3 separate regions of the Homo sapiens genome follow, and all the other regions are linked to region 1. The links come from fine-mapping of genetic effects on gene expression. A gene starts in region 1. Each other region holds a variant in brackets. All regions are shown on one strand. Distances are from middle to middle.

Evidence for each region.
Region 2: its variant is fine-mapped to the expression of MGAM in whole blood (TOPMed, PIP above 0.99).
Region 3: its variant is fine-mapped to the expression of MGAM in whole blood (INTERVAL, PIP 0.98).

Annotation. Positions count from the first base shown.
Region 1 is chr7:141,990,317-142,001,830 of GRCh38, forward strand. It overlaps MGAM (maltase-glucoamylase), which reads left to right and starts at 5,563. Exons shown (of 71, transcript NM_001365693.1): 1 at 5,563-5,614. RefSeq lists an enhancer at 5,261-5,762.
Region 2 is chr7:142,107,073-142,116,777 of GRCh38, forward strand. It overlaps MGAM2 (maltase-glucoamylase 2 (putative)), which reads left to right and starts at 4,646. Exons shown (of 48, transcript NM_001293626.2): 1 at 4,646-4,735. The variant C/T (reference allele first, on the strand shown) is at 2,724.
Region 3 is chr7:142,053,481-142,058,480 of GRCh38, forward strand. It overlaps MGAM (maltase-glucoamylase), which reads left to right. Exons shown (of 71, transcript NM_001365693.1): 27 at 1,274-1,428; 28 at 2,078-2,246; 29 at 2,520-2,616; 30 at 3,350-3,462; 31 at 4,723-4,848. Among named protein-coding and RNA genes, the nearest start is that of MGAM2, 56 kb to the right of the region's middle. The variant T/C (reference allele first, on the strand shown) is at 2,078.

The DNA of each region.
Region 1 (11,514 bases):
AAAGAACATGCACCTGTGCAGCTTCCAGAGTCCCCTGTGGATACTTAGTCTGCTTGGAGGTGTGGGGAGAAGTAATATTCTTCTGGACTAAAAACTGAAAGAAGCAGATAATCCAGTGTTTTGAATCTGTGTAGAAATCTATCTCGTGCTTATGACAGCTCTGGGCAGTTTCTTACCTGCAGTGGTTCCCTATTGCTTGCAAAATCTTCTTGCTGAGATGAGATGCTAGAATCTCTGCATTGTGGCTCCAGTGTACTTTCCCAGAAGTGTCCCTGATTGTCTCACAACTGTCTTCTCTGTGTCTTTTTACTGCAGTTTCTAAAACAGGTTCTGTTATTTCTTTTTTTTTATGTTTTTTTATTTTTTATTTTTTTATTATTATACTTTAAGTTTTAGGGTACATGTGCACAATGTGCAGGTTAGTTACATATGTATACATGTGCCATGCTGGTGCGCTGCACCGGTTCTGTTATTTCTTACCTGTGGGTCTGGCTAATGCTGCTCCCTTCGCCCAAAATATCTTTCCTTTTCGCCTTCCCTTCCCACTTCCACCCAGCTATGGCTTTGATTTCTTTCCTGTCCCTCCCAGCATGTGTATTCTCTGTCCAGTAGCATTTGCTGGTGCTGTCTTCTCTTTAGCATCGTAGCCATTTGACTTCTCTCTGCTATGAGGTCATGGAGGAATCACGCTCATCTATATTTCAGTGCAGGCTTGACCAGACTGCCTGGCTTTGCATTCTGGGTTTGCCTCTCATTAGTTACATGACCTGGGGCAAGTCGCCTTTGTGCCTCAGGTTTCTCATCTGTAAAACTGGGATAATAACAGTACCGACTGCATAGCGTAGTTACCAGGAGGAAGTGAAATAATGCATGGAAATCATTTAGCATAGAACATAGGCCACAGTACGCACTCTGTAGATGTTGTTACTGTTATTCTCATAGTGCCTTGTTTGTAGTACACACATAATGACTGTATATTGATGGAATTGTGTGGAGGAAGTGGTTATTGCTATATTTTCTGTGGCCGGAAGTGAGGAGGCAGCCCCAGGGCTAATGCTTGATCCAGAGGTGGGGTCACAATGGTTAGGGTAAGGGTGGTGGCTGGGGATGGAGAAAAGGATTTTTTTTTTTTTTTGAGACAGAATCTCACTCTGTTGCCCAGGCTGGAGTAGTACAATGGCACAATCTCGGCTCACTGCACCCTCCGCCTCCCAGGTTCAAGCAATTCTCCTGCCTCAGCCTCCTGAGTAGCTGGGATTATAGGCACGCGCTACCATGCCCAGCTAATTTTTGTATTTTTAGTAGAGACGGGGTTTCACTATGTTGGTCAGGCTGATCTCAAACTCCTGACCTCATGATCCGCCTGCCTCAGCCTCCCAAAGTGTTGGGATTACAGGCGTGAGCCACCACACCTGGCCGAGAAAAGGAGATATTTTAATCACATTCCAATCCTCACGTTTGCATAGTCTTCGAGGCTCCCAAGTAGACATGCTTTTCTAATATCTCCAAGCCTAGATAAGGCCATGTCACCAGACAGCAAGCCACTCCAGGCACCACAATGATTATACCTTGGTCTGGCCTGAACCATGTTTTTAAATCCAGGGACTTGGAGCTAAGCCTTTAAACTGCTACAGTCAGGCAACATCATAGATGTTGTGCAGGGTAGGTGTTCAATAATTTTTCCTTTGTAAACATGAATGACTGCCTGCTATGTTCGGAATTCTGATTTGGGGTCGAATGAGAGATTGGCATATTTGAATGGGCCTTGGATTGGGGATTCAGGGTCTGAGCTCTTGTCACAACTGTGGCAGATGCAAACTGATCATATTAATTGTAACTGACACTTACTGAGTATTTACTAAGTAACATCAAGTCTTTTACTCACATTATTTTGTCTAGTTTATAAATTTATTGATAGGTAGTATTTTAATCTTCATTTAAGTTACAGAATCAGAGACTTAGTTGCTTAAGCTCCCCCAGTTAATAAGCAGACCTGGGCTTTGCAATTCAGGCCTGCCCTGTTCGGATCTGGAACTCTGAGTCACCACCCACACAAACCTCCTATTCCTGGGTCTCAATTTCCTCTTCTGTAAAATAAGGAGGCTATGCTTAGTGATTTTTAAAGTTCTTTAAGGGCGATACCAAACAACTCAAGTCACATGTCTTAGGAGCTTGATGGATGTGCATTTGGGTGGCAGTTTAGACATTTGCTGCCTTGGGGCCATTGTGAACATCAGTGAGATCATGTAGGTGAAGGTCTTGTTTTTATTTATTTATTTTTATTGAGGCAGGCTCTCACTCTGTTACCCAAGCTGGGCTGCAGTGACATGATCATAGCTCACTGCAGCCTTGACCCCCAGGCTCAGGTGATACTCCCACTTCAGCTTCCCAAGTAGCTGGGACTACAGGTGTGGACCACCACACTCAGCTGATTTTTTTTATTTTTTGTAGAGACATGTTCTCCTTATGTTGCCCAGGCTGGCCTTGAACTCCTGGGCTCAAGTGATCTTCTCGTCTTGGCCTCCCAAAGTGCTAGGATTACATGTATGAGCCACTGCTTCAGACCCAAGGTCTTGGCACTCGGCCAGCCTCCATGCATGCCAGTTTTCCTTTCTTTCCTCTTTTAGCTGTAAATTCTTTGATTCTATGATGCCAAAGAAACACGGTAAGTCAGTGTTACCACGGTGGTTGTTGTTCACTGATGGTTCATGAAATCAGAAAAGTAAGGATAAGGAAGTAAACTTTCAAAGAGATAAATTGATTCAATTTTGATTATCTGTCTATGTCTACTGTGAAACGACTGTGATAAGAGATAGTGATTTTTGTTTGTATTTTCCAGATGATATACATGGTTTATAAATTTAGGTCTCTTGGCCCAGATTTTTTTCTGAATTTTCACTAGCCCATAAAGACAAATGCCTAGAAATAGCAGTAGCTGAGCAGGACTTTTTAAACTATGTGTGGTAAAACAGCAATTGTTTTAAAATTGTCCAATATATCACAGACTGTGGCTTTTGTAAAATTAAAACTAAATTACTTGAAAAATAAATTTTAAAAAAGCATATACAGATACAAGCTCCATTTTTTAATTATCAAGATCAATGACATGAAATGATTCTGTCAAATTGTAATGCAAGTCTCTCAACACTTACCTTCAATTTCTGTGCTTATTTTTCTGGAAGCTGGCAACCACAGGTTCACAGATAACTCTTGGAGTATCACAGAGCGGGGAACTCTGCCCCACTTGGAGGAAGGTCCACTTAGTAACAGAGCAAAGTTCTTAACCTGGGGTTTGTAGATATAATTCTGAAAGCCTGTGAACTTGGAGGGGGAAAATATTTACATATCTTTTCTTTGCTAAATTCTAATTGAAATTTAGAGTTAGGCTGCAAACTACAGTGGTGTTAGTAGTACCTATGAATTTGGTTTCAAGAGAGGTCACAGTTACTTTCACATCATATATTTAAAACAATCTCAAGATATTGTTTACGCTTATCATGTTTTTGAAATTGCAATCGCTATTAGACATATCGCTTTATTGTTAGTATGTCATTAAAGAGGCACAAACTATAATTTAAAAAATATTATAGTAACTGTGTTTCAATGTAATTGATTTTCTTTGTATCTCAGCTCACTACAACCTCCGCCTCCTGGGTTCAAGTGATTCTCTTGCCGCAGCCTCATGAGTAGCTGGGATTACAGGCACGCACCGCCATGCCCGGCTAATTTTCGTACTTTTAGTAGAGACGCGGTTTCACCATGTTGGCCAGGCTGGTCTTGAACTCCTGGCCTCAGGTGATCTGTCCACCTCAGCCTCCCAAAGTGCTGGGATTACAGGCGTGAGCCACTGCACCTGGCCTAAGAATTAATTCTAAGAGGGGTTTATAAGCATGTCTCAGCTCCATAAGTTCTTCTTGCCCACTGCCCTCCAAAAAGATCAATGAGAACAGCAGGCATTGCAGTAAATAAAGAGTTGAATAATCACAGTGTTGGCCAAACAAGAGCAGGCAAAAACTTCTCAATCCCCTCTCCCTCAGGATTCAAAGGCTAAGGTTTGTAAAGGGTACTTTGGTGGGCATGGGGCTGGGGAACTTGTATAATTGATTGGCAGGGAATGAAATCACAGGAGCACCTAAAACTGTCTTTGTGCAACTGAGTCAGTTCCCAGGAGGGGTGTGTGTGTTGGCCTCAAGACTAGGTGGTGTCTGTTGGTCTACTGAAATGCTAACAAATATCTAAAAGACCAGTTATTTAGGTTTCACAATAGTGATTGATATGGTTAGGCTTTGTGTCAGAACCCAAATCTTATCTTGAATTGTAATCCCCATAATCCCCATGTGTCAAGGGAGGGACCAGGTGGGATGTGATTGGATCATGGGGGCGGATCCCCCTATGCTGTTCTCATGATAGTGGGTGAGTTCTCATGAGATCTGATGGTTTTGCAAAGCAGTTTTCCCTGCTCTTGCTCACTCTCTCTGGCCTGCCGCCATGTTAAGAAGTCCCTGCTTCCCCTTCCACCATGATTGTTTCCTGAGGCCTTCCCACCCTTGCGGAACTGAGTCAACGAAACCTCTTTTCTTTATAAATTACCCAGTCTCAGGCATGTCTTTATAGAAGTGTGAAAACAGACCAATACAGTGATGTTATCTTTGGTAGTTGGGGAAGTTATGAATTTTGTGACACTGGTTGTGTGACTGGGGCAGTAAGCAACTTATAGAAAAACAAACTAAGCCATGGCAGGACATTGTTTATGCCTATTCTTTAGCAAAGTCTAAGCCCCTACCATAATTCCAACCTTGCCTTATGAATGCGCCTTTAAGCTCCAGGCAAGGAGGGGGATCATTTTCCCTTGACTCCAAGTTTAACTATAAACTAAATCCCTCTCATAGGTTTCTTGGCCTTTGTACTAGAATAAGCAAAAAGCCAACCAAAAAAAAAAAAAATCCCCTAGAAAACATAATTTAGCCTGGGAGGTTAGAAGCAAGATGGAGTCAGTCTTGTTAGATTTCTCTTATTTATAGTTCTGCAAAGGCAGTTCAAGAGTCACCAGACTGTTAAAGGATTTCCATACTGCAAACAAGCTTAAGGACACCTTAAAGAAGAAAGAAGAAAACTATTTTTAAAACATTTTTAAAACAACTTCCTTCCATCACAATCATCAGATTGTGCTACTAAACGTCAGTGAGTTCCTGAGAGATTCGGAGTCAGTGCAAGAGACCAGGGCTCTTTTGGAATACTGGGGTCATTTATTTTTTGCTCTTTATCATCTACAAATTGTGTCTGTGTTCTCTTACCAGACATACAGGGTGTCCTCACCACCGATTAAACATTCAGTGCCTGGAGGGGATGGAGTGGGTCATGGGAGCTGGCTTTTCCTTCCAAAAGTCTTAAGGATGTCCTTCTTAGAGCAAGACCACGATTACTAATTAACTAAAAATTCTGATCCTGGAAATAAAAGCTGGCCATTCATTTGCATTTGAAAGCCATTAACATTTTCTTGATAGGTCGGTAAATAGTTACCAGATCTTTGGTTGCTTTGGTGGACTGTGCTCCTCTGCTTTTATTGCTAAGCCATCCTTCAGACAGAGAGGGAGCGGCTGCAAGAGGTAATGAGGTATGTTTGTGAACCTTGTATTCTTTTACGGTTACAGATGTGTGTCTACAAGTGTGTGTGAATTTGAGTTGATCTCTTTTAGTCAAAATGCCCTTGTTGGCCGGGTGCAGTGGCTCACACTTGTAATCCCAGCACTTTGGGAGGCCGAGGCGGGTGGATCACGAGATCAGGAGATCGAGACCATGGTGAAACCCCATCTCTACTAAAAAAATACAAAAAATTAGCCGGGCATGGTGGCGGGCGCCTGTAGTCCCAGCTACTCGGAGAGGCTAAGGCAGGAGAATGGCGTGAACCTGGGAGGTAGAGCTTGCAGTGAGCCGAGATCACGCCACTGCACTCCAGCCTGGGTCGTAGAGCGATACTCCGTCTCAAAAAAAAAAAAAAAGCCCTTGTTAATTTGTTAAACACAAAGATAAACAACACCAATAATAAATCAAAAATTATGCACATGCATACACATGGAACAAAATTCTCATTTATCTTTTTTTCTTAGTGTGTGTATATTTTTCTGAACTAAGGCTGGATCTATAAGCCTGATTGTAGTGAAACCTGTGTGTTTGTGTGTGTTTCTGTGTGAGGTGTGATGAATTATTTAATACTTAGGTTGAGGTAGCAGGCAGAAATTCTTTCAGATTCTGGAAATGAAGTGAGAGAAATGAATAAAAGGAGTTAGAATTTGGGAGTGAGATTAGAGCATTTTCCCTCTGAAAGGATTTGGAGTTGTGATTGAGAAAATGTAACTGAAGAACCAATTATAATCAGAAAATTGAGAAATATATCACTATGCTTATGGGTTTGGTGCCTCTGTTGATTAAATACAGAATAATTTTAGGGGATAGTCTGAGGATGTGTGTAAAATATTGGGATGCATTTATGAGTTGGTGTGCATTGGTGGGTAGGAGAGGTTTCCTGTGGAATGTGGGAGGAGGTCATAAAGAGAAAGGTAGGGTATCTGTCCTGGCAGTCATGTGTGGAGTAGAATGGGAGTGCTCGTGGGAAGAGGAGAAGGTGATAAATTGTTGTTGGCCCTTAAACTTAAAAACTTAAAATAAAATACTTAAAATAAACTTAAAATAAAACTTAAAATAAAACTTAAAAAAAGTTGGATCCTTACTAGTTGCCAGTCTAGCTAGACACACGCAGGCATTTCTTTTCTGACTGGTTACAGAGGTGGGAAGGGAGAGTTACTCTTGGGGAAAGAGAGAGAAATTGAGACTAATCCCCATGGGTCTCCCTGAAAAAGGATACCACTAGGTTCTTCATGCAGGATCTGATCAGTGGCTTTGCTGGGCGAGGAAGACCTCCCAATGTCCAAACTGTCTACAGTCTGTGTCCTGGTGTGGGACAGTAAGTGTATGTCTGTAGGTGTGCAAAGAGGGGGTGAGATGGAGGGGGTCTTTGGTTTGTTGTGCTGGTAGGTCCCTGTGCTACCAGGGACCAAATGAAGTGGGACACTAAATTTAAGACAGCTTGTTGCTATTTCAGTCACACTCTCACAAGATGCCAATGATTATTTTTTATTATCAGGCATTCCCTCACAAATACATTTTAATGAGCTAATAAAATTACTATAAAAATTGTTCTATAAGCATGGAATGGAACTAGAAAAGAAATTTTCCATTTAAAATTTGTTCAGGTGGCAGCTGTGGAATGTGATGAGAAATATAAGCCTTTGCACACCCTGTTGCTGGGCTCAAGGAGGAGTTAGCTGTCTCCTAGAGATGATCCTTTTGCAGTTCAGATGGGGAAACTGAGACCCAGAGGGGTTAAGTGGATTTTTCCAAGGTCATACAGCTGGCTAGGGTCAGAGCTGACTCTTAAATCTCTCACCTTGGGTGTGACCAGACTTGGAAGAAAAAAGCCATTCATTAGCTACCTTATCCCTTCCCATTCACCAAGCAGCTGGGAAAGGATGGCCCAACCTACTAATATCGCCCAGCATTTTTGATGAATAGCTATGGCTCACTGGGGTCCTCTTTGCAAGTTGTTCTTAGTCTATCTATCCACAATGAATCCTCTTTTCCACTAGATCTCATGTCTTGTGTTAGCAAAGGATTTTAAAAGAATGGCTTAGACCTCCATATACACATCAAACGCTGGCTATAATGCCGGAAAGAGGACAAATATCCAGTTTTTCCAAATTAATTTAGATAGCCATTTTAATAATTTGGGCCCCCATGTGGTTTGTCTACTTTGCCTAAAGAACTATAATGGTACCAGGACAATGAGCTTTGACAATTATTCATATACTAAATAATTCAAGAAGAAAAAAATTCTATTGCTTTTGCGTAATGTATATATAGTAATAATTCTTTTTTTAAATTTTACTTTAAGTTCTGGAATACATGTGCAGAATGTGCAGGTTCGTTACATGGGTATACATGCGCCATGGTGGTTTGCTGCACCTGTCAACCCATCATCTAGGTTTTAAGCCCCACATGCATTAGGTATTTGTCATAATTCTCTCCCTCCCCTAGCCCGCCATCCCCTGACAGGCCCTAATGTGTGATGTTCCCCTCCCCATGTCCATGTGTTCTCATTGTTCAACTTCCACTTATGAGTGAAAACATGTAGTGTTTGGTTTTCTGTTCCTGTGTTAGTTTGCTGAGAATGATGGCTTCCAGTTTCATCCATGTCCCTGCAAAGGACATGAACTCATCCTTTTTTATGACTGCATAGTATTTCATGGTGTATATGTGCCACATTTTGTTTATTCAGTCTATCATTGATGGGCATTTGGGTTGGTTCCAAGTCTTTGCTATTGTAAATAGTGCTGCAGTAAACATACGTGTGCGTGTGTCTTTATAGTAGAATGATTTATAATCCTTCGGGTACATACCCTGTAATGGGATTGCTGGGTCAAATGGTATTTCTAGTTCTAGATCCTTAAGGAATTGCCACGCTGTCTTCCACAATGCTTGAACTAATTTACACTCCCAACAGTGTAAAAGCGTTCATATGTATATAGTAATAATTCTTATATTTCAGTAAGATTATTTTCTGACCAACCTAATTAAAATTGCCACCCTTACCCCAACATTCCTCATTTACCCCCCACTTTTTCTCCATATACTTACACAGTATAACCCAGTGTATATTTATTTATTTTGTTTATTGTCTCTTTTTTCTATTCATGGGAACATAAGTCTCATGACGGCAGGGATTTTTATCTGTTTTGTTCATTGTTGTGTAGTCAGTTTTTGAAAGAATGCTTGGCACATTGTAGGAACTTAATAAATAATTCATGAATGAATAAATAAACTGCAAGCAGATTTCTTTCTTCCAGAGATGTAGTTTAGATAATGATGAATGATCTTGGCAAATGAGGCACATCAGTAGCTTCTTCTAGGTCTCCCAGATAATTTAAAACGTGCTATGGGCCATAAACTTAATGTGTTTTTATTTGATAAAACTATAATCTCACAGAAAGCCCAAGCTGGTGTACACTGTGGGGCATTATAGCATAGAATACAGAGTGATGGTTAAAAGCCATGGCTGTGGAGTCCAAAGGGCAGGTGTTCAAATTGTGGCTTTGCTCCTTATCAGCTGTATGATGACATCAGGCAGTTTATTTGACGTTTCTGAAGCTTAGTTTTTTCATCTGAAAGTGAGGATAGTAGCCATGATTAACTTGCAGTCGTTATAAAAATGGCATGTGACAAATTATGGAAACCTCTTAGGATATCTGCTCAATCACTGTTAACCATTATTATCATTAGCATTAAAATTGCATAGTTATATATTTGTCCTATAAAAAAATAGTCAAAGATTAAGGACAGATTGCCAAGTAGCAGTTTTTTAAAAAACATTTTTAAAAGCCCTTAACCCTATTTAAATTATTTCCTTTTTTATTTGCGTCTTGCCATTTTTCCTGATCTTAGTTTTTCTTCAATTGCATTTCTAATTGAGATAGGAAGCTTCACCATCAAGAGTTCTATAATGCAGGAAGTAAGGTCAATCAGATAATGCTGGAGTTTTTTTTAAGGTTTAAGGAAATCTTTCTCTTGTATAGCTAGAAAATAGATATTATTGTTCCATAGAGCAAGTAACCATATTTGAAAATATGGAGCAAAAGGACTATTAATAAACAGCAAACATGTTTTTAAAAATATGCTAATGATATTTTATTAAAAAGTCATATTTACCTATGCATATTGGTTATCTATTGCAGGGTAACAAATTACCTTACAATTTTGTAGTTTAAAACAACAAACATTTATTATCTCCCAATTTATGTAGGTCAGAAATATGGGGGTGAGTTAGCCGAGTGGTGCTGATTTAGGGTCTCTCATGAATCCAGCCAATATGTCAGCCAGGACTGTAGTCATGTGAAGGCTTGAATAGGGGTAGAGGCTTGCTTTCAAGGGACCTCACTCAGATGGCTCTTAGCAGAAGACCTCAGTTCTTTGCTAGAAATTTCCATAGTCCTGCTTGAATGTTATGATGGCATGGTAACTGGTTTCTTCAGGAAATGATCCAAGAGAAAGAGCAAGGAGGAAGCTGTAATGCCTAGTCTTGGAAGTTAGATGCCATCCCTTCTCCACATCCTATCTGTTGAAAGTGAGTCACTAAGTCCAGCTCATCCTCAGAGGGTGAGGTGGTGGGGACTCGCCCTACCTCTTGAAGAGAGGAGTATCAAATAATTTGTTAAATTAAAAACACCTGCCGTGTGATGATTTTAAATAACATTGAATTATATTTTACTTCACGTATTTACTGATTGCTGTCTCTATGGATATTTACACTTTTTTGCTATTACGTGTAATACTGTGATGAAAAACCTTTATTTGTATATACATTGATTCCCAAGTGTGTAAGTGTATTTAAGGGATGAATTTCTATAAATGCAATTGCTGGGTAATGGGCATGAGTAATTTTAATAGTTTTTACCAAGTCTTCATTGAGCATAGGGTGTTTATAGTTTGACCAGCAGTCGGTGGGTGTTTCTTCATAGTGTCTAACATAGTGTGTTAATAAACACTTGGAAAAAAATTAAATATTTTTATAAAAAGCAATCTCACATCTTACAACTATTAGCATCTACCAAAGAGGAGGCATGGTCACTTGGATAGACATTCTAACTCCTCTTCTTATCAGTGAACATAAGATTACTCTTTGCTTTATTAGTTAATTTAATTATACCAGGCATGAGAGATTATTAATCTTTATGGAATTTAACAAGCAAGTTTAATTTTATAGGATTTCTTATGAAGCTCTTTGGAATGTGAGATAGTGGTGACAGTCATGGTAAGAAAGACTAGAATTGGAGTAATTTATTCTAGAAAACACAAGGCAATCCTTGCTGTAGAGAAAGGTTGCTTTCACAGCTCCATTTCCTTTTGCATAGTAAGAGGGCATTACGTTGACTAACAGCAGTTTCTTATCAGTGTATGAGAAGTAAGTCCTCTTATTCAACCAATCCTTGGATAAATGACTAAGGATGGCTGCTTCCTACTGAAGAGAATGTGGGAGGAAACATTGATTGGGTGGAGAATGAGACCGCAAGGAAATATCAAACAATTCCTAAATTAGGGAGTCATGAATTAAGACCTCACAGGAGAAGAAGGGTGATGTTCTTTTTGAGTAAAGAGAGTATGATTTACAAGGCAGCCTGGGAAAGCAAGCATTGGTGGGTTGGTGGAGAAAGTAGGCCTTGTATAGGCAAGACTGTAGCTATGGCTCCTCTTCCTGGCTTTCTGCACCTATGTCCCAGGCAATGCATGAGTCATCCAACACACGGGGCCATAAAGCACTTAATGAAGGTCATACCAGAGCAAGCCAACCAGGACAGCAATCAGCATTGTTCATCAGCTGCTCCACCAGAACACCAAGTCGGGTGTGGTGACACACTCAGGGAAAGTGGGACTGACATATTTTGTAGGAACATTCTGTTTCTTACC
Region 2 (9,705 bases), 120 kb after region 1:
AGATAAGGAAATTATATATTAATGTTCAACAGGAATATTAACTTTTGATGTTACCTGAAAATGAGTTGAAAATGAATGTGTGTGGAATGAATGAACCTACTTCTCTGTGTTTTCTTCTTTTCTTATAACCAGGAAGCCATTCATTCTCCCTGCACACTCATGTGTCAGCACCTGCATAAGGCTAGAGACAAACAATATTGTTAAATCATCTAATTATCACAATACGGGGCATTTGGATGAGGGCCTGAGCTAACTAGGAAACTGGTGAAATATGGAAAAGCAGCCATGGGAATCCTTTGATCAAAAAGGTGGGAAACTTGTCAGCTTTCCTCTAACAAACTCAGGAAGGCCACAAAGATGAAAACGTTATTTACTTGATATTTAAAAAATATTTAATGTTACCATCAAGGATATGTTGGTGGAATTTGGCTCTGGCTGCCACAGAATGCTTAAGGAGAGGCATTCTGACTATATAATTCTGATGGCTAAGGCCCTAGTGAGGCCAGTGGGGTTTTGGAGCACACGAAGTGTCAGGGACCCCACTGACAGCCTAGTGAAACCTACGGAATTCTTCCTCACAACATTGTTTTTAAATGCATCAAGCAAAATGCATGCTATTTCAAAGAAAACTTATCATATTACGATACACTTATCCAAATATTAAAGATGATATAGTAACCCATGAGATGTGTTTTTTTCATTATCAAATTAAATGAAAAGATCCAACAGTGGAAGTAACAATGCTATAATTTCAATGTAATGATCAACATCAACAATATTTTGAGATATCCACTACAATTTCATAATGTAATATGGAAAGATCTGTGATTGCATTATTGACAAACTCATGTGCTATGAAAACTACTGTGTTTTGTTGTCTACATTCATAACCTAACAAAATGCTAAATTTCAGCCAGAAATGTGTGAAAAAGAGATTATCTGTTGGAACCAATATGGCTTACCGGAGTTAACGCAGAAAGAGCTTGCTGACGTCACAGCCTGAATTTCCACCACAGGTTCTTACTAACTCCCTCCCAAATTTGCACATGAGACCCATGATGAGGCATGAAGAGATAACTGTGCATGCCTGAGGACTTTCTAGATTTCCTCTTTCTTTTACCAATCACCTGCTAATCCCAGAATCCACCCCCTAAGTCTTTTCTGATAAAAATACTTCCTTAAAGCCAGCACAGGAAGACAGGTTTGAGCTGGACTCCTGTGTCCTGTGAGTCGACTTTGCAATAAAAGCTTTTCTTCGAAACCCTTTATCAGAGTATTGGCTTCTAGCGCATCGAAGAGTGAGCCCTTTCGCTCAATAATACCCCCAGAGGTTGTTCCTCAGATCACAGTCTGAGAACCACCTCTCATGGAACCATATCCATTTGTGGCCATCCCAGAGCAGCCCCTACAACATGGACCTATGCTTACAACTCCTGGCCAGCTATTCAGGAAGAGGCTGGGGGCCTTCCTTTTCCACATATGCTCTGTTTTTTAGATCACATAATTTTGCTTTCTTCATAGGTGTGCCAAAATAAAAAAAAAAACACTCTCAAACTCTTTCACTTAAATAGGAAGACATCTATTCCTTTCTTATTAATGTTATAACATTAAATGTCATATATACCTGCAAAGATAAGGTTATGTTGGCCGTGGCAGATGTCTTCAAGATCTCATCAATATTTCTTTGTTCTTGTCATAGCGGCAGAGTCACTGAGAGTTTTGCATCTGGCCTTGGAGAAAGGTGTTCTGGAAGTTAAGGGTGACTCATATTACTAGTTTCTGATCTGATGATTCCAACCAGCAGCTTGCTGTGACAACTGTTTGAGTTCCGCCAATAGCTAACTTTGCCGTGCCTTGTTACCGATAGACAACTGGAAGATGTCGGGTCACGTGCCTGTCTCTACCCTTCAAAGTGGCTCTGTTATTTTCTCATTGGTCAACACCAGTATGGTGATTCAATATCTTCCAGTTACTAGTTAGCAAGAATGGAAGGTGAAGGTAGCTATTTTCTGCACTTTAGGAAACAGGTTATAGATTAGCTGGGCCTGTTGGTTACCACTATTAACATAAATGAAGTCACAAATGTGCATGGCATGTGGGGAGTTAAAGGTAAAATATCACACAAAAAATAGATCTTATGTAACAATAAAATCTCCCTTCTTGACCTTTTGCCAGGATGTCTTCCCAATTTGAAATGAGATCTTGGTACATTTCCCCTCTAACAAAGGCCACCTTGTACTGGGGCAAATGAAAAGCTGAATATGTCATTCCAGCAGTTCATAAATGCAGAAACCGAGTCTCTCTTTCTCTCTCTCTCTCTCTGTCCCTCCCTCTCTCTCTCTCACTTTCTCTCTCTCTCTCCGTGTGTGTGTGTATGTGTGCTTTTCCACATACTGAGCATTTGAAGCAAACACAAAAGATTCACTACTGTGAACACTGTTATTTACAGTTCTTAGGTGCCACCAAAAGAGCTCTCTGTACCCTCATATATTACTGGCAGGAATGGGGGTGTAAAATGGTGCTGCCACATTAGAAAGCAGTTTTGCAGTTCTTCAAAAAGTTAAAGACTTGTCACATGACCCATGATTCCACTCCTAGGTATATTCCAGGCAGAATTTTAAAACGTGTCAGCTCATAGCAGCATCGTTCATAACAGGCAAAAAGTATCAACAACCTAGATGTATATCAGCTGATACATGCCTAAACAAAATGTGGTCTATCCA[C/T]GCAGTGGATACTATCCAGACATGGAAAGGAACAGACACTGATACCTGAAATGGTGTGGATGAACTTTGAAAATATCATGCCAAGTAAAAGAAGCCAGACACAGATGGCCACATATTGTATTACTGCATTTATATGAAATGTTCACAATAGGCAAATCCATAAGGACAGAAAGTAGGTTAGTGGCTGCAGAAACAGGGGGAGATGGGAATGGGGAGTGACCACTAATTATTTTTGGGGGTGGCAAAAATGTTCTGGAATTAGATAGTGGTGATAGTTTCAGAATTTTGTAAATATATTTTTAAAAACACTGAATTGTATACTTTAAAAGAGTGAATCTTATGGTTTGGAAATTATATGTCAATTTAAAAATCCACTTTAGCTGGCTTAAGAAAAATTTTAAAAAGATATTGGTGACTCATTGAAACTCCGGTAGGACTAGAGAGTCAGGTTTGTAGGCCATGTGGCTAGGGACAAGCCCCAGGTTACCCTGTAGCGGTTTCTACTGCCACTGCCCTGAGCACATATCTGGCAGCTCGCAACCCCAAATACTGAGCATAGGATGCCACTAGGTCTCTTGTCCCTGCTGCCTCTGAAACGAGCTATGCTTCCAACATCCTGGATTTTACATGGTACCTCCTTATCTACACCTTCTTCTGGATGTAAGTCACTCACAGGAATATCTCATTCACAAAGCTCCAGCCACTTGCCTCTACCTTGGATGAAAGAAAGGCTGTGAAAGAGAATTTCTAGCTGTTTCTTTGGGGAGGCAGAATTTGGAGAAAAAGTCCTTAAGTTGATTTAAGTAAGAGGTTTTCTTTTTCTTTTTAAAGAAAGATCCTCCGTTTTTAAATTTTTTTCAACTTTTATTTTAGATTCAGGGTCTAAGATTCAGGGTGCATATACAGGTTCATTTCAAGGGTATATTGTGTGATGCTGAGGTTTGGGGTGTGATTGAACCTGTCACCTAGGTAGTGAGTATAGTACCCAATAGGTAGTGTTACTACCTTTGTCTCCCTCCCCACCTCCCCCATCTTAGCAAGAGGTTTTGAAAGATGCTGAGCCATCGAAGAACATGACAAATGTCCACTAGAGGCATCTTCCCACTTTAGGTTTGTATACATTCTTTCTCTTTTATTTTTTTTGAGATGGAGTTTTGCTCTCGTTGTCCAGGCTGGAGTGCAATAGGGCAATCTCAACTCACTGCCAGCTCCACCTCCTGAGTTCAAGCGATTCTCCTGCCTCAGCCTCCTGGGTAGCTGGGATTACAGCCGCCTGCCACCATGCCTGGCTGTGCAGATGGGGTTTCACCACGTTGGCCAGGCTGGTCTCAAACTCCTGACCTCAGGTGATCCGCCCACCTCGGCCTCCCAACGTGCTGGGATTACAGGTGTGAGCCACTGCACCTGGACGGGTTTGTATAATTGCTACTTTAATGGTACTTCACTATTTAGAATAATTGGTGGAAAGGATCATTTGAATTAATGAAAAGCTGAGTTATACCAAGAGAACTCTGGAGGATGAAAATGGAGAAAAGAACAAAGTGATGAACTAAGAGCTAATCCTTCTTTCACTTACTTATTAAATAAATAGCTATATATTTAAAAAGAACTATGGATATTGGGCAGAGTGCTAAGCACAGGAGATACAACAGTGAAGAAGATAGACAAGACCCTAGCTCTTGAGCCCTTTAGGCTACATGTATAGATGAGGAAACATAACGTGACAAGTAATCAGATATGAACAGGGATACAGAAGAGGGACAATGAGTAGAAAAAAAACCACCTTCCCCTTTTATTAACAAAAGGAGCTTTCATTCTGTGTCACATGGAGAACAAGCGTTCTTTTATGACCTATTGGAATATGCACTCCCCTCCTCCAGTTGCTGTCAACTTTATAAGGCAATAAATTAATTGTGGCAGAAGCTGGCTACCTCAGCCCAGTTACCTTTGCTCAGTGCTCCCTATGAATTGCTGAGGGAGAGATACAGCATAGAAAAAAACAAGGTGATGCGGTGAGTACGCTTCTCCATGCAAGCAGGGCTTTGAACAAGGGCAGGAAGGTCCCTTTCTTTTTGTGTGATTTTCTGTCTGCTGCTCTGTTAAGTGATCTGGATGCCCATGTTTTCCTTCTGGACTTAATATTTTCTTCCTTTTCCATAAAATATGAGGAGTGAGGATGAGATAGTTGATGGAGAGGAGAGACTGTGTGTGTGTGTGTGTGTGTGTGTGTGTGTGTGTGTGTGTGTGTGGTGTCAGTGTTTGGAGGACAGGTTGGGGGAGGTCTGGTGTGAGATCCTCCTCTCTCACTGGGAGAAATTAAGGACAGAGGAAACAGATGGGATCCTTCTGGAAACTATCTCAAGATGGCATGGATTTGGAGGAAGGTGAATTCCTCCCAGCTTTGGGCAGGAAGGGTTTCTAAGTAGGCAAGAATTTCTACCTTTAGGAATCCCCATCCTGTCCTCTGCCTGAATGACAATAGCTCCTAAGGCAGGAAAATACCCAGGGTTATTCCCAGAGCGTTCCTGTACTTCCTGAGCTAAGGTGCTGAACCTGCTCCCTCAGGAGGATTGAGGAGCTGTGGAGTAGGTCCCTGCTGCTGATTTTTAGAAGCTAGAAAGAAAAAAGTCTCCCTGTGGAGAGAAATAATACTTGCAGAAAGAGACCAATTGATGAATAATGCCTTTGCTGTGGTATTGAGTTGTGGGCTGTATGTATAAGAAACGAAGTTTGATACCATAGCACTCTTAGGGTAGGTCCTTCCTACTTCTTTCTCTACCTGAAATTCCACCATTGGAGACCGATCCTCTAAGTCTTTAAGCTCTGCAGCCTAGGATACATTGTCGAGAGAGTATTCAAGTACTATTTTAAAAAGTAGCGGCTCTCGGTGTTTGTCTCAGTTCCACCACTAACCGTGACTAGACAAAATTTCTTAATATTCATCTATAAAATGGAAATCATGATATCTGTCTGATCAGCTTCAATGCAGGGATTTTATGAGAATACAGTCATATGATATATATTTTATAGGGATTAGAGTATATCTTTTAAATAATTTAGACTAAAAGAGAGACAACTGATTAATTTAGGTAAATAGTAAAGAATAGTTAATAAACCTCAATTTTAATCCCAAACCTCGTGTCTCCAAGGGCTAAGGGTTCTTCCTAAATGCCTGTTGGCAAATTACCTGTAGGTCCTAGTTCCTTACCTCTATTTCAATATTAAAGTGCTTCTTTTATGGAATTATTACACATTAACCTAAAGGCTACTGTAATTAAAAATTGAAGCTATATACCTATATAAAAATATTTGTAGAAATGGTCGTGGCATTGGGGAGGAGTTGAGAAGAGCAGGGAGGCAGGGAAATGAAAAGTAAGAGGAGATGCAAAATCAACATAAAAATAAGAGAGAGAACAGTCTTTGTCCCTGCTGACTTATATTTAATAGCTTGTTGCTGCATAAGTGCTGGTTTAGTATGGTGGGAATATGGGGAGAGGAGACGCTGAGCAGCTGGGGTTAGGACGTGCCATGAAGACCTTTGATCACAAAGCTAAAGGGTTTTTGGTTTATTCAGAGATCCATTAAAGGCTTGAATATAGGAGATCCAAATGACCCTGTTTGTGCTGGTCACTTGGGTAATGACCCAAAGATACCGGGAAAGTAGTCTGACTGAACTGTTAACTGGCTGTGAGAACTAACAGAATGAGAGGAATTAAAAAAAGATTCCTAGGTTTTTTTTTTATAATGTGATTCTATTCCTCAAGTTATTAATTATTTGAAGAACAGATAATTTGGCCAAATTGGCAGGAACTGGGAGTGAGGTGTGGGGAGAGATGATTTCATGTTTAAACATGTTAAATCTTATTGAATCTGTGGGACATCCAATAGGCAGTTGAATATATGAATCTAAATCCCTGGGCTAGAAATACAGGTTGGATTGCCATCACATGTCATATAAAGTCACATGAGTGGTGGAGATTACCCAACGTGTCTGCGTAGTTTAAAAAAGAAGCCTATACCAGAATTTGGGGGGCATCAACATTTAATGAAATAGGGCTGAGCGTGGTGCCTCACGCAGGTAATCCTAGCATTTTGGGAGGCCAAGGCGGGCGGATCACCTGAGGTTAGGAGTTCAAGACCAACCTGGCCAACATGGTGAAACCCTGTCTCTACAAAAATATAAAAATTAGCTGGGCATGATGGCGGGTGCCTGTAGTCCTAGCTACTCGCGGGGCTGAGGCGGGAGAATCACTTGAACCTGGGTGGCGGAGGTTGCGGTGAGCCGAGATCGCGCCACTGCACTCCAGCCAGGGCAACAGAGCGAGACTCCATCTCAAAAAAAGAAAGAAAGAAAGAAGGAAAGAAAGAAAGAAAGAAAGAAAGAAAGAAAGAAAGAAAGAAAGAAAGAAAGAAAGAAAGAGAGAAAGAAAGAAAGAAATAGGAGACTACAAAGAATATTGAAGATAAGCCAGAAATAGAGGTGGAAAGCCAAGATTCCTATCAAGGAATCCATATGTGGAAAGTTTCATGGAGGAGAAAGTGGTTAAGTGATTAAGACAGCGCCCATTGTATTCAGCCACTATGTCACTAGTAACCTCGGTGGGAGCATTTCCAGTGGAATGCAGAAAACACAGCCAAGCCAATAACACATGAGGAAGGGAATACAGAAAGTGTGGAACTATCGTTTTGGAAGATTGGCACTGGAAAGAAAAAGAATGTTATTATGCTACCTGCAGAAGCACACAGAGTCATTAACAGAGTTTGGGGTGACTTGGGGTATATTTATGAAGGAAAGATATTCAGAGAGTGAATTTGATAATGCAAGACAATAAGAGATAATTGGTGGAATGAAATTTTTGAGAAATTCAACAGCTGTGAGATCTAGATAACAGATACAAGGATTATGCTTAAACAAGAAGAGGAAAAACTGTTTCATTGAGAATAGAGGGGGAAAAATAAGAATTTACCTAGATGTGAATAACCTTTGTGGAAACGCTTGGGTTGAGAAGCAGAGAGAGAGAATAGTTTCTGCAAAATCATTATTTTTTGGGTGATATCAGAGATGATACTGCATGAGAATAAGAGTGTAGGTAATAGAGTCAGGCCTGAAAAGAAGGATAGAAGGAACAATTTTTTAAATTACAGGCACGGTGGCTCATGCTGTAATCCCAGCACTTTGGGAGGCCGAGGTAAGTGGATCATTTAAGGTCAGGAGTTCGAGACTAGCCTGGCCAACGTGGTGAAATCCTATCTCTACTAAAAATACAAAAAGTTAGCCACACGTAGTGGCATGCACTTGTAGTCCCAGCTACTCAGGAAGCTGAGGCAGGATAATCCCTTGAACCTGGGAGGTGGAGGTTGCAGTGAGTTGAGATTGCGCCACTGCACTCCAGGGTGACACTCCGTCTGCAAAAAAATAAAATAAAATAAAAATAAAATTACTGCTGCGAAAAGTGAGAGGCACTGTCAAGACCATCAGTCGGCTTGCAGGCCCAGTTTATTTAGGAGATTATGAGCCTCGGTGGCATCTCCCTTGAGTTACGTGCGGCAGCACAGAAGGCAGATGTTTGGATGGATAGTTTCATCCTGCAGATTCTGTTAGCAGATAGAGAGCGAGGAAGATGAGAGCAATGGCAAGTTAAATAATCAATACTGAGGCCTAGGTCAGTTAGGGTTAACAGCTAGGAAGGGCTAAGAGATTAAAAGGAAATGGAAAGATAACAGCTGCCTTGATGTGATAAGATACTTTTTTAAAATAAAGTAAGGCAGGCTGGGTGCTGTGGCTCATGCCTGTAATCCCAGCACTTTGGGAGGCCAAGGTGGGCAGATCAGCTGAGATCAGGAGTTCGAGACCAGCCTGACCAACATGAAGAAACCTTGTCTCTACTAAAGATACAAAATTAGCAGGGCATGGTGACGCATGCCTGTAATCCCAGCTACTCGGGAGGCTGAGGCAGGAGAATTGGGTGAACCCAGGAGGCAGATGTTTCGGTGAGGCGAGATCGTGCCATTGCACTCCAGCTGGGCAACAAGAGTGAAACTCCATCTCAAAATATATAAATAAATAAATAAATAAAATAAAGTCAGACAATGAGACAGTAAAAGGACATTGCTCATTTGCATATGGATTTACAATTTCAAAAGTGTAACAGTTCTGGGGATGATAAATTCCAGGGGCTAGCAAACATTTGAGGATGATGGAGATGGAATGGCGAAGAAGGCATTGCAGCTGAGGGCTGTCATGGATCTGTAGACATGTAATAATGTTAGATTTACTATAATTAGAGCAGAAAAATGAGAACACATCCAGTGTCTGATGTCATTTTTGTAGATGAAGAAATACAGGTCCAAATAGGTAAATAGCCCATCTGTTAGTAAGAAAATCAGGACAAGAATTCAACCCCTTTGATTCCCAGTTCAGTACATCCTCCAATATAGAAAATATTTTAAATCTTGGGTCAATAAATGATCTTCGGGGTTACTGGGAGCCACGAAATTTATGTGAGTTGTTTGCTGTGAACCTCCCAGCAAGACTTATGCTGGGTATCAGGATCATTTTTGTTACCAGATCCTTGAGAGTGTCAGTGACGTTTAAACAGTCTCAACAGTGACTTCAGCATCATGTCCAGGGCAGTTGAAAGAAGAAGACTTGGATTCCAGTTTTGCTACTTTCTCTCTCCCTGAGCATACCTTCCTGTCTACTACATTAGGTGGATGTGAAGATCAAAGTGAAATCTAAAGGGTTTTGTGAGCTACCTCAGCCCCTCATCTCTCTTCTGTGTGTTATTCCACAACATTTTCCCTTCAGTTCTTCATGTCTGATATACTTTTCCTTGGACAATCCTCAGTTCCTCTACATGCAAAAAAGGCAAGAGCTCTACAGGTGTTGGATGTAAAGCTAGAGTTAATTAGGGACACTGATAAGTGGAAACAAATATTCTTTAGATTATGTAAAGAGGATGCTGATAATCAAGGTCATCTT
Region 3 (5,000 bases), 60 kb after region 1:
TGTAAGATGATATGTTCAGTTTGGGATGCTGAATTTGAGATTTCTGTAAAATGGCCATCAATATGCAGTAATTTCATTTCTTTCCAGAATTTAATTGCATTTAAGGACTAGGGATGGACTAGCTGTGATGTCTATTTTTCTATTAAACTAAGCTTCTCAAGGACAGGAATGTGCCCTTTCCTGTTTGTGCTTCTGAAATCTACAGAGCCTGGCCGATAGTGCTGTAATGTTATTGACAGAGTAAGTGAAAGTGGTCAGGACATTGTCACATTGCCTGAAAGGTTCTTTACAATCTGACATCAACCCGAATTCTGAGTTCTTGTTCATCCTCTAATGCAGGGAAGAATCTCTTGTATGTTTGTACCCTCCTTGTAACACTAGCATGTTTTAGGCACCTAATGGGTTTGAAGTGAATGAACTTCCCTGGAGTTCTAGCCTTAACCATTGCCTACTCTACCTCTTGACCGTAGAGTAACTCTTTCCAAAATATGTGCCTCTTTCTGGCCCACTTTAATTCTCTCTGCCTTCGTGGTTGTTATTCTTCACCAGAATGACTTGATCTCCTTTCTTTGTTTGGTTAATGACTACCAAGCTTTTAATATTCTAGACTGTATTTCTCCCGTGAGACCGTCTCAGTCTCCCAGAAACAATGTTAGGCATTTCCTTCCCTAGAATCTCACAGCACTTCTACATAGCTCTCCCTTAGCACACATCACCCACGTGTTGTGAGCTGCTCTCTTTGACTTCTTATTCGCATGTGAATTTCGTAAAACCATAACACTGCCTTATTGAGCTCACGTCCCTAGTGTCTTGTGCAGTGTCAGGCAGGGGATGTAGTAGGTACTCATGAATCAGTTTAGATACCACTTTCAGCAAGGACATTCTGATTATTTTAATCAAATAGATTTCATTTTGGGGAGACAGGTTTTTTTTTGAACTCATAATGATTTTAAGTTATTTATATATACTCATATACCCACAGAAAATAACAAGTAACATATTCATAAATACCACACTGATTCCAGAATGATTTTCCAAGTCAGCAGCAATGTCCCATTGAGTTTATTAAGGTAATAGAGGCCTTAATAATGAGAAATCACAGAAAAATGTTAAATGTGACATTGTTATCTGATATATTAATTAAATCTCAGATATCATAAAGAAGATAGAAACATAGCATCTGAACTTTGTGTCCAAAAATCAAAAAGGTTCTGCTAAGGGTATAGGTTTCAAGAGTAGTATTGTTGCCTAAAATTGATTTCCTCTGGCCTAGATTTATGATCCCAACAAGAATCGGTATGAAGTTCCAGTCCCTCTGAACATACCCAGCATGCCATCCAGCACCCCTGAGGGTCAACTCTATGATGTGCTCATTAAGAAGAATCCATTTGGGATTGAAATTCGCCGGAAGAGTACAGGCACTATAATGTGAGTGGCTTCTAGTGTGACTCAGAGTTGATGGCTACCTGCGCCTTCGCTGCCAGGTCCATTGTCCTTGGATGTATCCTGGTTCAAAACATCACATTGTCCACTTCCAGATCCATGGATGAGTTGTTTCCTTCAGACCTATTCTTACAGGAAATCTTTAGCATTCTGGAAATAAATACTGAAGGAGTTGAATGTGCCTGAGGATTCATCCAACAAATGTTTATGGGGTGCCTTCTCTAGATTAGGTGCTGCTCCTTATACACAGCTGAGGTTTCTCTTCTCATGACAACAAATAATAAGTAAATATCACTTTGAGTGCTATGTAGAAAATGGACTGAGGGGTGCAAGGATGGAAGGCAGTGCTGGTGTGGAGTGGTCCCAGCTGTGATGATGAGGGGTGCTTGGATTTGTATTGTGGAGGACCACTGAAAGGAGGCAGTGACAGAGGGAAACGGAAGAATGATGAATAACTCCTGGGCTTTTAGCGAGGATATCTGTGATATTTTAATCAAATTGAGTTTCAGTTTTGTTTGGGATATGAACAGCTTCTTGGTAGGAATCAAGTGTTCTGTTGTCCTTGAAAAGTCACCTGCTGGAAACAGAGATAAAAGCTCATTTTCTGTTTCAAATCTGCGTTTTTGTGTTTCAG[T/C]TGGGACTCTCAGCTCCTTGGCTTTACCTTCAGTGACATGTTTATCCGCATCTCCACCCGCCTTCCCTCCAAGTACCTCTATGGCTTTGGGGAAACTGAGCACAGGTCCTATAGGAGAGACTTGGAGTGGCACACTTGGGGGATGTTCTCCCGAGACCAGCCCCCAGGGGTAAGGACAGAGCATTTGGGATCTGTGTCTCTGCTTCTCTCCACCCACACTGCTCAGGCTTTGGGCTTCATCTTCCCAAACTCCACTTGGTCATCACATTCTGCTTTTAGGCAAGTGGGCCAATTCTCAGGCTCCTTTGTTTCATGTGTTTAGTTTATGTGTCTAGTTTCATGGAGAAAACTAGAGCCATGTTAGCAAGCACATTTTTGTTGAGTTTCTTTCTCAGGCATAATGTCTTTTAAACTCCTACTGCTTCTTCCCATGACTCCCCAGTACAAGAAGAATTCCTATGGTGTCCACCCCTACTACATGGGGCTGGAGGAGGACGGCAGTGCCCATGGAGTGCTCCTGCTGAACAGCAATGCCATGGGTAAGGCCATCAGCACCTCCCTTATTTTGGGGGGATACCAATCATGCCTGAGTCAATTTACAATGTGTTTAGCCTAACTGTTCCTTGAAGGCAAAATCTTCATTTTACGGGCACTGCTGTTTATTTTTTCTTTGTGTTTAGCCTTTCTGTTTATTTCAATCTAATATCATGTAATAAGAAGATTTAACCCAACTCTCATTTTGGTAAAAATCACATAAGAAGGGATAGTAACACCACATGGGTCCCAAATATCCTGGAGGGCAGCTCGTGAGAGCCAGTTATATAATTTGAATTAGGGTAAAACTATGGGTCAGAGAAGTTAGTCTGGGGGTATTGAGGGTGTATGGTATGTTGGAAAATTACCTATCGGGTACTCTGCTCACTGTCCGGGTGAGGGATCCATACCCTAAACCTCAGCATCATGCAATATTCCCATGTAAGGAACCTGAACAGGTATCTCTTTATCTAACATAAAACTTGAAATGTAAAAAATAATAATTTTATAAGAGTAGAATGATAAAATATAGTAAAGTACCCTAAAGAGAATCAAACCCAGGAATGGGACCTGTAGACTTCCATTGATCTTCTTCAGTTCTGTGAGTATGATAGAAAATGCCTGCTGTTACTACTCTATGATAGGGAGGGTGCAGGAAGATGGAGAATGTGTGGATTTCAGGGGTGATTCGTGACATGGAAGGTGTCCGTGAGGCTTGGCATTTTTCTTTATTTTCAGATGTGACGTTCCAGCCCCTGCCTGCCTTGACATACCGCACCACAGGGGGAGTTCTGGACTTTTATGTGTTCTTGGGGCCGACTCCAGAGCTTGTCACCCAGCAGTACACTGAGGTAGGGGGAAATCCAATTGTTTATCAAGTACTTACACAGCACATTCTGGGTGCCAGAGTCCACATTGATTAGTATAACTCTCAGTTGACAACTGGAAATATTGGTCTTTCTTGGAGAGAGATTATAGAATGAGAAAAAATAAATACATTCTAATTATCATTAAATTTATAGCCTCTGTAAGCATTGCAGAATAGCAGAAGTTATAGTGGTACTAGTGGTGGTGCTGGTAGTGATAGTAGTGTGATGTTGGTGTTATTTGTGGTTATATGGTGATGATGGCAGTAGGGGCTGACGGTGGTGATAGTGATGTGGGAATGGTGATAATGATGGTGGTGGTAGTAGTGGTGTTGGTGATGGTGATGATAGTGGTGGGGGTGGTGGTAATGGGTGTGTTGGTGATGATGACGGTGATAGTGGTGGTGATGGTGACAAGGGTGGGGCTGACGATGGTGTTTGTGGTAGTGATGGTGATGATGATGGTGGTGTTGGTTATGGTGGTGGTGGTAGTGGTGGTGACAGTGAGGTGGTGTGAGGAGTGTGATGTTGGTGATAGTGGTTGTGGTGATAGTGGTGATGGTGGGGATGGTGGTTGGGGTGGTGGTGGGGGTGGTAGTGGGGGGTGGTGGTGACGGTAGTGAAGGGTAATGATAATGGTAATGGTGGTGGGGGCACGATCGTGGTACTGGGGGTGATGGTGAAAATAGTGATGATGGTGGTGGTGATGATGGTGATGATGACCATGGTGGTCGTGGCAGCAACAACAGACACTTACATACTACCAAGTGCGCATCACTGATTTATCACTTGCTGCATGTTAGAGCATTTCACACATATTAACTCATTCATGCATCACAGAAACACTATCAGGCAGATGCTATTATTATCCGTTATTTACAGATGAAGAAACTGAAGCACTAAGAGATTACTTAATTTTTGCCCAAGGTCACACAGCTAGCAGGATTGGAGCCTGTATACTAAGCCAGGCATATGTCTCTGATTCTGGGTTTCTTAACCAGTTATCTACAGTGTCTCTAGGAATAGCGTAACATCAGATTTTCCATAATTTTTAAGAAGGAGCTCAAGTCTAGCAGAAAGCTTTCTCTAAGTATCCTAGTGGCTCTATATCCTGTCAGTTTTGGTCTGGATTTCAATTAGTTAGTTGTCTAGCTTGGGGCACAGAAAAATATTCTTATTACTTGATGTAAAACTTCAATGTGGTGCCTCTGTTCTGAAGACTAATATTTTCTGTCTATTTTCTAGTTGATTGGCCGGCCTGTGATGGTACCTTACTGGTCTTTGGGGTTCCAGCTGTGTCGCTATGGCTACCAGAATGACTCTGAGATCGCCAGCTTGTATGATGAGATGGTGGCTGCCCAGATCCCTTATGTACGTTCTCAGTCATGGCTCTGGAGTTTCAAAACTAACCCAGGTGCCTCTGTGTCTGGGTTCATTTGTCTAATGTTTGTTGGATTCCATAAAGACATAAAGTTCTTTTTCAGACAATATCACAGTTAGCCTCACCCCAGCACAGTAATATA